Homo sapiens: one gene and its partner. Changing the gene in region 1 together with any one later gene gives a genetic interaction. Each region holds a gene or a part of one and is shown in the gene's direction. Other genes may lie near its edges.

The links.
Region 2: of PEX11B (region 1) and DNM1L, changing one enhances a phenotype caused by changing the other (phenotypic enhancement), as found in Homo sapiens cells (one study listed by BioGRID).

The regions. Positions count from the first base shown.
Region 1 is NC_000001.11:145,910,850-145,915,743, reverse strand, and holds the end of PEX11B (peroxisomal membrane protein 11B), read left to right. Parts: intron 1-3,177; coding exon 3,178-3,583; 3' UTR 3,584-4,394; downstream 4,395-4,894. UniProt on the Homo sapiens protein: Involved in peroxisomal proliferation. May regulate peroxisome division by recruiting the dynamin-related GTPase DNM1L to the peroxisomal membrane. Promotes membrane protrusion and elongation on the peroxisomal surface.
Region 2 is NC_000012.12:32,674,284-32,682,306, forward strand, and holds the start of DNM1L (dynamin-1-like protein), read left to right. Parts: upstream 1-5,017; 5' UTR 5,018-5,080; coding exon 5,081-5,182; intron 5,183-8,023. UniProt on the Homo sapiens protein: Functions in mitochondrial and peroxisomal division.

The DNA.
Region 1 (4,894 bases):
GAGACTCGCTTGAACCCGGGAGGCAAAGGTTGCAGTGAGCCGAGATCGTGCTATTGCACTCCAGCCTAGGTGACAAGAGCAAGACTCCATCTCAAAAAAAAAAAAAAAAGAAAAGAAAAGAAAAGAAAATGGATTGCAGTGGGTCAAGAGAGGAGGAGATGCCCTAATACGAGCAAGAGATGACGTTGGCTTGGACAAAGGAGGTAGCTGACAATAAAGGTAGAGAGAAATATGATGTGGGAGTAAAATTCTCTAACATATTATCTGTATTGTTTTTCGTTTTCCTATGATTGTACTTTTTCATTATATTAACCTTGCTTTTCCCTTCATCTTTCTCAGTGATTTACAACTTTAACATGGCTTATGATGTATGAGGGGTGGGAGCAGAGGCATGGCTGGAGCAGTATGGAAAAGCAACTCCCTAAAGGAGTCTATATGTTATATTTATTCATTTCATCCAACAGATACTTACTGAGCTCTTACTATATGGTAGGCACCAGTGTACATACAGGGATACAGTGGTTAAAGATAAACAAGGCCGGCCAGGTGCGGTGGCTCATGCCTGTAATCCCAGCACTTTGGGAGGCCAAGGCGGGCGGATCACCTGAGGTCAGGAGTTTTGAGACCAGCCTGACCGGCATGGAGAAACCCCGTCTCTACTAAAAATACAAAATTAGCCGGGTGTGGTGGCGCATGCCTGTAATCCCAGCTACTCGGGAGGTTGAGGCAGGAGAATCGCTTGAACCCGGGAGGCAGAGTTTGTGGTGAGCCGAGATCGTGCCATTGTACTCTAGCCTGGGCAACAACAGTGAAATACCGTCTCAAAAAAAAAGAAAAGACAAACAAGGCCTCTGCTCCTCTGGAACTTACCTTGTAATGGGATGAGATAAACATAAATAAACAATAAATTAAAATATCAGATACTGGTAAATGTTATGCAGGAAATTAAAACAGTGTTATGGAGTAGAGAGTAACTGACTCAGTGCTTTAGATTTAGGGATAAGGGAAGGCGTCTCCGAAGAGGTGATACTTAAGCTCATACCTGAAGAGCAAGAAAGAGCTAGCTATGTGAGGGTTTTGGAGGGAGAATATTCCAGGTGGAGGGAGAATATTCCAGGTAGAGGGAATAGGTAGTGCAAAGGTCCTAAGGCAAGAACAAGCTTGATGGGATTAAAATGTAGAAGGAAACCAACATGGTTGGAGCATAATGATTGCAGGAAAGAATGATACAAGGTAAAGTTAGAGGGGTAGGGACCAGATGTTGAGTCTGTAAGCCTCTCTAAGGTATTTATATTTTATTATGAATGTGACAGGAAGAAAACCATGGAGAGCTGTGGTTTGTTTATTTGTTTTTGGTTTTTTTTTTTTTTGAGATGGAGTCTTGCTCTGTCGCCCAGGCTGGAGCGCAATGGTGCAATCTCAGCTCACTGCAACGTCCATCTCTTGGGTTCAAGTGATTCTGCTGCCTCAGCCTCCTGAGTAGCTGGGATTACAGGCACGCGCCACCACACCCAGCTAATTTTTGTATTTTTAGTAGAGACAGGGTTTCACCACGTTGGTCAGGCTAGTCTCCAACTCCTGACCTCATGATCCACTTGCCTCCACCTCCCGAAGTGCTGGGATTATAGGCGTGAGCCACCACGCCTGGCCAACCATGGAGAGTTTTAAGAAGGGAAGTAATGATGTGATTTATGTTTATGCTAGCTATTATATGAAAATAGATTGTTGGGGGTGGGGGCAACAATGGCCACAGTGAGACCAGTTAAAACATTAAAGCAGAAGTCCAGACAAGAGATGTTAGTGGCTTAGAGTATGGCAGTGCGGTGTGATAGAGAGATGTGGTTGGTTGGGTTCAGGATATACTTTGAAGGTAGTACAAGTTATTGAGTACAGACCACCATTGTCAGATTGGATTACAAATAAAAAACATGGATTTTTTACTGAAGAAATTTATAATTTAACACATTTGGCAATTACTTAAACCTCTGGGCCTCTAAAGGAATAGGGATTGGATTTAGATCACCTTTAATATGTTTGAGTCTCTGAGACATCTGAAATTTGTTCTTTCAAAACAAGTTTGCCTTGTTATAGGTCAAGTTGAGAGAGAGATGGAGAGTGTGTGTGTGTGTGTGTGTGTGTGTGTGTGTGTGTTGCCAAGTGGAAAATGAAATTTGAGATTGACCTTGGAAGATTTCATGATGCTCATGGAGTTTAAACCAGGATCTTAAGGTGCACATAAACATGTATTAGTTACAGAATGTTGGGAGGACTTTGTTTCTTCATTTTTATTGGGACATAATTGACAAATAGAAATTACATATATTTAAGGAGTTATAGCTCGATGTTTGTACATGTACGTTGTGACATGATCACCACAGTCAAGCTAATTAACATATCCATCACCTCACATAATTACCTTTTTTCTTTTATGGTAAGAACACTTAAGATCTACCTTCCTGGCAGATTTCAAATATACAATACAGTATTGTTAACTATAGTCACAATGTAGTACATTAGATCTCCAGAACTTACTCATCTTGCATAACTGAAACTTATACGCTTTGACCAGTATCTTCCCATTTCCCTCACTCCCCAACCCCTGGCAACCCCCATTCTATTCTGTGCCCCTATGAGTTAGCCTTTTTTTTTTTTTTTTGAGACAGAGTCTTGCTTTGTTGCCCAGGCCGGAGTGCAGTGGTGAGATCTCGGCTCACTGCAACCTCTGCTTCCTGGGTTCAAGCAATTCTCATGCCTCAGCCTCCCAAGTAGCTGGGATTACAGGTGCTGGCCACCACAACTGGCCAATTTTTGTATTTTTAGTAGGGACGGGGTTTCACCATGTTGGCCAGGCTGGTCTTAAACTCCTGACCTCAGGTGATCCACCTGCCTTGGCCTCCCAAAGTGCTGGGATTACAGGCATGAGCCACCACGCCCGGCCTTATTTTAGCTTCCACCTATAAGTGAGATTATGCAGTATTTGTCTTTCTGTGTCTGGCTTATTTTGCTTAGCATAGTGTCCTCGATGGAGGACATTTCTAATAGGGGTAATAGCATTCACTTTACTTCTGATCTAATGTGTAATCTCTTTGCTACAGGAAAAGAAAATGTTAAAATGTGATGTTGGATATGTTAAGTAGGTATACATGCCCTTACTGACCCTTTTGCTCTGTGTATCAGGTACTATTTGTTTTCCCTCATCATGAATTTGAGCCGTGATGCTTATGAGATTCGCCTACTGATGGAGCAAGAGTCTTCTGCTTGTAGCCGGCGACTGAAAGGTTCTGGAGGAGGAGTCCCAGGAGGAAGTGAAACTGGGGGACTTGGGGGACCAGGGACTCCAGGAGGAGGTCTGCCCCAACTGGCTCTGAAACTTCGGCTGCAAGTCCTGCTCCTGGCTCGAGTCCTTAGAGGTCATCCCCCACTTCTGCTAGACGTGGTCAGAAATGCCTGTGATCTCTTCATTCCTCTGGACAAACTAGGCCTCTGGCGCTGTGGCCCTGGGATTGTGGGGCTTTGTGGCCTCGTGTCCTCCATCCTGTCTATTCTCACCCTAATCTATCCCTGGCTACGACTCAAGCCCTGACCTTCCGGTACAGGATAAGGAGGGGACCTGAATTGGTGAGATGGAATCTTAGATCGTCCCCCATGTGCCAGCCTCATTCGAATTCTACTCTTTGGTTAAAGTTAGAAATTCAGAGATTTAGGGGTGGAGGAAGAGCTTTGGGGAAGATGAGGTAAGGAAAGATGACTCGTGAAGTTAATAGGATGTCTCTAATTTCTAGATGTGCCTGAGCTTCTGTTCTTTTCCTCTTTCTTTGTGTCTCTCTTGAATATATTTACTTTGTGTCTCTTAACTCTGTTTAAGGTTCTGTGTCTATGCATCTCTCTCTTTCTTTTTTCAACCTTCTCATTCTCCTATCCAGGGATTTAATCAGCAGAATTACTTTTTGATAGGGGAGGTATAAGGTTTGGCCTGTAAGGTTCTAACTGCCTTCTTTTTTCTCACAGAGGTGGCTTATGGCAGATTTTTCCTCCTTCAAACTCCAAACATAATTTTTAAGACTATGTGCCAGTGGACTCTTCCCTTATATCTCTGCACCACAAGTTGTTGGATGTTTCCTCTTCCTCCCTTATGTCTACCTCACCAACCTCGCTCATCATTTGGCCCTTATCCTTCCTTGTACACCTACCTTCAGATTTCTGCTTACACTTTGATTTCAGAGCTTTATTCCCCAGTCTGTTCTTACTCCTTTGTCGCTTATCCAGAATGATGCTATGTGTAGCATCTTGCTGTAAATCCTGTACAATGATTCTGTGTAAATAGCTGTGGCCTATGCCAATAATGAAGAGCAAGCCTTTCAGGTAAGCAAATTAAAGTTCAGTTTGCTCATCGACATTTGGTCTGGTCCCTCATTTTTTGGTAATTTGAGGCCCCTATTCCTGTCACTGTGGTTTGGGTTTTTCTCGGGATTAGCCACTAACATCACCCACATTATTTTTCTTGAGCACCTACAGTATGTAAAGCAACATACTTAGTGGGCATCCAAAAATCTAAGAAGCTCCACACTCCCAACTTTAAGAAGTTTATAACCTAGCTGAGGAGTTGGGGTGGCAGAGGAGTGGTCTAATACTAAAGTTATTGTCCTGGCTCCACAAAGCACATCTCATACCAGTTCAGATATAATCCCTCTAAGAAGCAGAATGCCATATGACAGCATAGGCTAAGAGCCAAGGACAGAACCAAGTGGAGTGGGGCTGGTAAGGATTTGGAGCTGTGTCTTCACAAGTTGAGACTCCCCTGGGTGGGTAGGGAAATGATACCACTGCTATCAGCTCTTTCATTTTCCATATTCCAGGTTGAGATAAATAAGGTTAGGAAGTGAATCTATCGGCC
Region 2 (8,023 bases), on another chromosome or scaffold:
TAAACACAGAGAAGCTTTTCTGGGGGTCAGAGGCCTGATGACAGCAGAAGAGTTAAAGAGATGCGACATTGCTGGCTTTGAAGAGGTTGGAAGGAGGTAACCAGCAAGGAATGCAGGGGGCCCCTAACAAAGGCAAGGAGGTGAATTCCCTGCTAGAGGCTTTAGGAGGGTTTGCAGCCCTGGTGACACCTTGATTTTAGTCCAGTGAGACCTGTGTGAGACTACTGAACTATAGAACTGTAAAACAATACTTTTTTTTTTTTTTTGACATGGAGTCTCACTGTGTTGCCCAGGCTGGAGTGCAGTGGCGTGATCTTGGCTCACTGCAAGCTCTGCCTCCCAGGTTCACGCCATTCTCCTGCCTCGGCCTCCCGGGTAGCTGGGACTACAGGTACCCGCCACCACGCCCGGTTAATTTTTTGTATTTTTACTAGAGACAGGGCTTCACCATGTTAGCCAGGATGGTCTCAATCTCCTGAACTCGTGATCCGCCCGCCTCGGCCTCCCAAAGTGCTGGGATTACAGAAGTGAGCCATTGCGCCTGGCCACATTTTTGTTGTTTTAAGCCACTAAAATTGTGGTAATTTGTTAAGGCAGCAATAGGGAACTAATATACTAGAGAAGCAAGGCAGAAACCAGGTTCCTAGGTTTCAGTTCCTCCCCAGTTCTCTCTGCCTCATCTGCTGTGAGACAGCTTGCTGAATGAGATCCCCTACACCCTCCCCCACAGCACACTCACCTCATTCCACAGGAGTAAACTGCGTGAGAGAATGAAATAGACGATGTAGTGATAAGATGTAGAGCTCTGATTCTGCCTGAGCTCCTAGTTCCAGTCATTTTTTTTTTTGAGGTGGAGTGTCACTGTGTCACCCAGGCTGGAATGCGGTGACGTGATTTTGGCTCACTGAAACTTCCGCCTCCCGGGTTCAAGCAATTCTCCTGCCTCAGCCTCCCGAGTGGCTGGGATTACAGGCTCTCACCACCACCCCCAGCTAATTTTTGTGTTTTTAGTAGAGACGAGGTTTCACCATGTTGGCCAGGCTGGTCTTGAACTCCTGACCCCAACTGATCCACCCATCTCGGCCTCCCAAAGTGCTTGGATTACAGGCTAGAGCCACTGCGCCCAGACATTCAGTCATTTTTGAGGCAAGTTAGCTCAGAATTAAATTTCTGTCCTTACAATTAGCTATCCTGCCTAAATCATAAAGCTATGGTGAGAGAGGGATGGTTGCAGGAGAAGAGGTGTTTTTTGTTGTTGTTGTTTTTTTTTTTTGAGATAGAGTCTCACTCTGTTGCCCAGGCTGTAGTGCAGTGGCGCGATCTTGGCTTGCTGCAACCTCTGCCTCCCAGGTTCAAACAATTCTCCTGCCTCAGCCTCCCCAGTAGCTAGGACTACAGGCGCGTGCCAGCACGCCTGGCTAATTTTTTGTATTTTTAGTAGAGACGGGGTTTCACCGTGTTAGCCAGGATGGTCTCCATCTCCTGACCTCGTGATCCACCCACTTCGGCCTCCCAAAGTGCTGGGATTACAGGTGTGAGGCACCGCACCTGGCCGAGAAGAGGTTTTTTTAAAGGCCTTTTGATATCCGATAATGGTTTAATGTGATTCCCACAGGAAGCCACTGAAGAACACATTATTCTTAGATGCACAAAGACTCTTTTTTGTGGGAAATCCATTTAGCCACTTATTAGTTAAATTGATTTCCCACAAACAAGAGTGTTCTGAACTTAAAACATGAAAGCCGAAATTGGTTTTTTTTCTTCTTTTTTTTTTTTTTTAGTTGGAGTTTTGCTCTTGCCGCCCAGGCTGGAGTGCAGTGGCGCGATCTCGGCTCACTGCAACCTCTGCCTCCCGGGTTCAAGCGATTCTCCTGCCTCAGCCTCCCGAGTAGCTGGGATTACAGGCACGCGCCACACCAGGCTAATTTTTTTTTTGTATTCTTAGTAGAGATGGGGTTTCACCATGTTTGTCAGGCTGGTCTTGAACTCCTGACCTCAGGTGACCCGCCCACCTCGGCCTTCCAAAGTGCTGGGATTACAGGCGTGAGCCACCGGGCCTGGCTCTTTTTTTTTTTTTTTTTTTTTGAGACGGAGTTTTGCTCCTGTTGCCAAGGCTGGAATGCAATGGTGCAATCTCGGCTCACCGCAACCTCTGCCTCCCGGGTTCAAGCAATTCTCCTGCCTCAGCCTCCCGAGTAGCTGGGATTACAGGCGTGCACCATCACGCCCAGCTAATTTTTGTATTTTTAGTAGAGATGGGGTTTCTCCATGTTGGTCAGGCTGGTCTTGAACTCCCGACATCAGGTGATATGCCCACCTTGGCCTCCTGAAGTACTGGGATTACAGGCATGAGCCACCGTGCCCGGCCTTCTGTTTTCTTTAGAAGAAAACAAAAGCTCCATCAACAGAGGGGTGAGAAGCAAAGTGGGTAATATCTGACTATTATGTAATATTATCTTTGGTAGAAAGTCAAGAGACTTGGAATAAAACTGTTTTTTGGAGTTCTGAAATTTTTGTCTTATTTTATCTCTGAAAAATTTTTTTTTTGAAAATAATCAAAGAGGAGATGTTCACAAAACCTGTCAAGATGCCAAAACACCACTAATGGATCTTTAGGTCTTGGCTTACTTCATCCATTTGTTCACAGATATTTATTAAGCACCTGCCATTTGTCCTGCTGAACAAATCAAGCATGTTCCCCGCAGCCATTGTGTACAGCTAAGCAGGTGAATGGCACCCACTGGAGTTGCGTAGTGCACAACTTCCACTACTGCTGGTGGTTCTTGTCCTCATGGAGATTAAATTTAGTAACTTCTAGGAAGTCTTTCTCGAATCTCTATCCTCTTGCTCAGACTGGAAAAAGTGCTCTTATTATGTTTTCTTTTCTCTTTTCTCTTTTTTTTTTTTTGACACAGGGCCTCACTCTGTCACTTAGGCTGGAGTGCGGTGGCACGATCACAGTTCACTGCAGTCCCCACCTCCCAAGCTTAGGTGATCCTCCTACTGCAGCCTCCCAAGTAGTTGGGGCCACAGGTATGCACCACCACGACAGGCAAGCTAATTTTTTTGTATTTTTTGTAGAGACTGGGTTTTGCCGTGTTGCCCAGGCTGGCCTTGAACTCCTGACCTCAAGTGATCTGCCCGTCTCCTGCCTCAGCCTCCTGAGTAGCTGGGATTACAGGAATGCACCACCACGCCCGGTTAATTTTTGTATTTTTAGTAGAGACGGGGTTTCTCCATGTTGGTCAGGCTGGTCTTGAACTCCTGACCTCAAGTGATCCGCCTGCCTTGGCCTCCCAAAGTGCTGGAATTACAGGCGTGAGCCACGGTGCCTGGCCTCTCCTCACCTGCTTTAATTCTTTACTCAAATGTCACCTTTTTACTTTGAGGTTTACTTTTACCTTTGGAGGTTTGGAGTAGAGGAGGGATACTATCTGTCTAAAAAGAAAAACAACATTTAGAAATATAACAGTATGGGCCGGGCATGGTGGCTCAGGCCTGTAATCCCAGGACTGTGGGAGGCCAAGATGGGCGGATCACTTGAGGTCAGGAGTTCGAGACCAGCCTGGCTAACATGGTGAAACCCCGCCCCCCACCCGTCTCTACTAAAAATACAAAAATTTTCCCAGGGTGGTGGCGGGTGCCTGTAATAACAGCTACTTGGGGGGCTGAGGCAGGAGAATCACTTCAGCCTGGGAGGAGGAGGCTGCAGTGAGCCGAGATTGCGCCACTGCATTCCAGCCTGGGCGACAGAGTCAGACTCTGTCTCAAAAAAAAAAAAGAACGGTATGAGCAAAGAGTGAGTAAGGCAGTTATCAGATGTCTACTTTGCCAGGAATCAGGCTACAGCAAATAAAGGTTTATACATAATATTGATAATAAATGCCCAGCTCTTCCCCTGTAAAACTCCAATACTCTAAGATTTTTTTCATGAACACCGCCCCCCGCTGCTCCGACCCCTGCTTTTTTATTTATTTATTTATTTATTTGGTAGAGATGAGGTCTCACTATGTTGACCAGGCTGGTCTCGAACTCCCAGCTCAAGCGATCCTCCTGCTTCTGCTTCCTAAAGTGCTGGGATTACACCGCGCTCGGTCCTGAACACACATTTTGTTTGTTTGTTTGTTTGTTTACAAAACCCCTGGAGAACCCGCGTATTCTAACCTGGGCTGGTTTTTGTATTTTTGCAAAATAACACCCCACACATTCTCGTATCAGCGTGCAGATTTTTTTGCACCCAGTTTGGTTGTTTGCGGCCATAAGCTTTTCTTTAAGCCTTTCCAACCCGTCCTTCTAGAGAAAGTGTCTTCATAAGGAAGTCACACTGCTCACGCCTGTAATCCCAACACTTTGGGAGGCCGAGGCGGGTGGATCACTAGGTCCGGAGATCGAGACCATCCTGGAAAACACAGTGAAACCCCGTCTCTACTAAAAATACAAAAAATTAGCCGGGCGTAGTGGTGGGTGCCTGTAGTCCCAGCTACTCCGAAGGCTGAGGCAGGAGAATGGCGTGAACCCGGGAGGCGGAATTTGCAGTGGGCCGAGATCGCGCCACTGCACTCCAGCCTGGGCGACAGAGTGAGACTCCGTCTCAAAAAAAAAAAAAAAATAAATAAATAAAAAATAAATAAAAGGAAGTGACACTGGATAATTAAGAGACACACCATTGCGCCTTTAACACATATTCACACCCAGCACTGTCACATCCATCGTGCCTTGAGGACAGGCATAAATTTACGGCCTTCCTCCTGCGCTCCCGGCCTGCTCCTAGCCTTTGACTAGAGCCTGCGCAGCATCCCAGTCCCAGGCTAGGGCCCACCGGTGCCGCGCAGCCTCCTGGAAGCTGTGGGGAGTAGCGTTCCTCCGCTCCAGAACTACAACTCCCAGCAGGCCTTGCTCCTCTCCACCTCCCTCGCAGCGCATGGCCTGCCGGGAGGGGGCAGGTAGCCGGCGGGCCCGGTCCAATGGGTGCCGGCTTCCGAGGAGAGGGCGGAGGAGAGGAGGAAGGAGGCGAACTGTGGGCCCCGGCCCCATTCATTGCCGTGGCCGGCGGGCACTGGGGCCCCGTGTTTTCAGAGTCATGGAGGCGCTAATTCCTGTCATAAACAAGCTCCAGGACGTCTTCAACACGGTGGGCGCCGACATCATCCAGCTGCCTCAAATCGTCGTAGTGGGAACGCAGGTGAGAGCAGCAGGCGGCGTTCGCTCGGGCCAGACCCCGGCCGCAGGCCTGGTCGGTGCTGCGGCAGTGCCCACTCCCGCGCCAGCGCCCACTCCCGCGCCAGCCTTTGGGGCCTGTGGGAGGAGGGCCTTGCTGGGGGCCCCAGGGCTCTCCGGGCTCTGCCGCACCCGCCCTCCCGGGGCAGCGTTGCATCAAGGCGGAGAATCCGGGGCCCGGCCAGGGGCGGAGCCGGCGCGGCGGGCCTGGCTAGCCCGGCGGGTCCCGGGGACAGGAGAGGGAAGGATGGGGCCGGCGGGCGGAACTGGAGTCCGCTGGGACCGGGCGCGGCCTCGTCCGCGTGCCGCTGCCTCCAAGGGCACCTGGGGGACGCGCGGGGCACTCGGGTCTCGCTGGGCTCGGTGGGCTGGCTGTTCCCATCACTGTTGGCTTTCGTGAGACGGGTGTTTTATTTCCCTCCTTGCCTTGCCCAGGGACTGCGGAGTTAGTTTTGGAATCGCTCTGTTGAGGCTGAGAGACGCTACGGTGCGTGAGCGCCAGTGTTTTCCTGCAGTATAATTCCACCAGGTTTCGAGAACGCCGAAGCAGCATTTTAAAAAAAGAAAAACAAAACGTGTATCTAGAGTTCTGCGGGTGTTGGGAAGGAATATCCGATTTTTCTGCGTAGGCTGTGCTTTTTGTCTTCCACAGTTTTGTGATCGTGACCTAAATTGGGCATCAGTTTCTCTGGTCTTCTCATAGCTAACTCATTTTTTTTTGAATGCAGAAATGTTGGCAAAATAACTGTTATTTCTAGAGTGACAGAGGAGAAGTATAATTTTCCTTTTCTCTGCTACTTCGATTAGAGTTCAGAGAAACGGATTTTAGAAATTAGTATATTGATATTAAGTGCTTTCATTTCTTAATAGTATCTTTTCTATTGAGAAGGAGCGGTTTCCCCATCATTTTCCAGGAGGTACATAGTATAGGGTATAAGTGCTATCAGAAGGAACTTACTGTTCAAAGTATTAGTGGCTATCCAAACACTGGAAACTATAGACACCCTGTACTCGTTTGTTTGTTTGTTTGTTTTTTTGGCTTTTAAATAGTTGAAGCAATAGAAATTGTTTTAGAAACACATTTCCTTGGTCTGCGATAGGATTGGGAAAGATTCTGCTCAATCTTGCCTACGTATTCTAGTATTTGTAACAATATTTGTAATGTTTGGAGACTCAGAAGCATCAAACAAATTACGAGGATTATTTTTTATTGAACATAATTTTGTTCAGTCTGGGACATATAGTAAGTGCTCTGTAAATATTTTGAGTAAATATTGCTCACTCTAACCACAATGTTTTAAAACACTGGGACTTTTATCATCAAAACTAACCTGTTTTTGTAAAAAGTTAGAGATAATATAAATTAAGTCTTTGATAGTAAGTGATTCAGAAGTGTCTTCTAGCTGCACACTAGAAACTTTCCACATACTTTTAAAAGAGAGTCTCAGTGCTTTTTAAGCATGAGGAAGTAAAAGAATTAGGGATATAGTGTGTCAGCATAAATAGTTTAAAATCAATAAGTTGTTTTTTTCTTTTTACACAAAATAGAGTTTATTTTGGTCAGTAAACCTGTTGGCAAAATACAGAGTGGCAGGAGAGAAAAGTAAAGATCCCATCCTTCTGAAAGCCATTAACATGTGCAAAAACCATCCTAGTACTGACAGTTATATGCTATATTTGCATGTTGGTGTTTGAAATTTCTCAAGAGGTCAGTTTTTCTACTTGATTTAATGAGGGTTATTTCCATCTAAGTTCTTATTAGCTGATAATCAGTCTTTTACTCAAGTACAGAAGAAATACAGAATAGAAATTATCCGAGGTAGGCAGATCACTTGATTCCAGGAGTTCAAGACCAGCCTGGGCAACGTGGGGAAACTCCATCTTTACGAAAAATACGAAAATTAGCTGGGCATGGTGGTGCGAACCTGTAGTCCCAGCTACTCTGCAGGCTGAGGTGGGAGGATCACCTGAGCCTGGGAGGTTGAGGCTGTGGTGCGTGCAGGAGTGCATGTCACTGCACCCCAGCAGAAAGAGAGAGAATAGAAACTATTTTCTCCCCACACCGCCCCCCCCGCCCCTATTTTCTCCCCACACCGCCCCCCCGCCCCCGCCTTTTTTGTAGTGTGTTGGGGAAACAAGAATCTCTTCTTGGTTTGAATACTAGTATACCATTACTTTGTGATGTCTGCCATTTTTACTCTTTGGTGTTGTGTAACATATATGTATACCTCACATTTATATTTAATGAAGTAATTGTAGTGAGTGAGTTCCAGACATATAAGTGTTCTGTACTTAGTTCTGCCTAGTATACCTATCGGCAGTAATTGTGTCTTCAGAATACAGGTATAAATTAGCCAGGTGCTATGGTGTGTAGTGTGTGCCGGTAGTCCCAGCTACTTGGGAAGATTGCCTGAGTCCAGGAGTTTGAGGCTGCAGTGAGCTATGATTCTGCGATGGCACTCCAGCCTGGGCGACAGAGTGAGACCCTGATTCTTCCAAAAAAAAATTAAAAAACAACTTCAAGTGTAGTCTCTATCCTACATATTATCCATACCTTAAATGGCTTCAGTTTCTATCTTGTTGAACTTTTTGGAACAGTGATTCTCAGACTTGAGTGTGTATTAAGAATCACTTTGGTTTTTTTTTTTTGAGACCGAGTTTCGCTCTTGTTGCCCAGGCTAGAGTGCAGTGCCATGATCTTGGTTCACTGCAACCTCTGCCTCCCGGCTTCAAGTGATTCTCCTGCCTCAGCCTCCCACATAGCTGGGATTACAGGCATGCACCACCACGCCCGGCTAATTTTGTA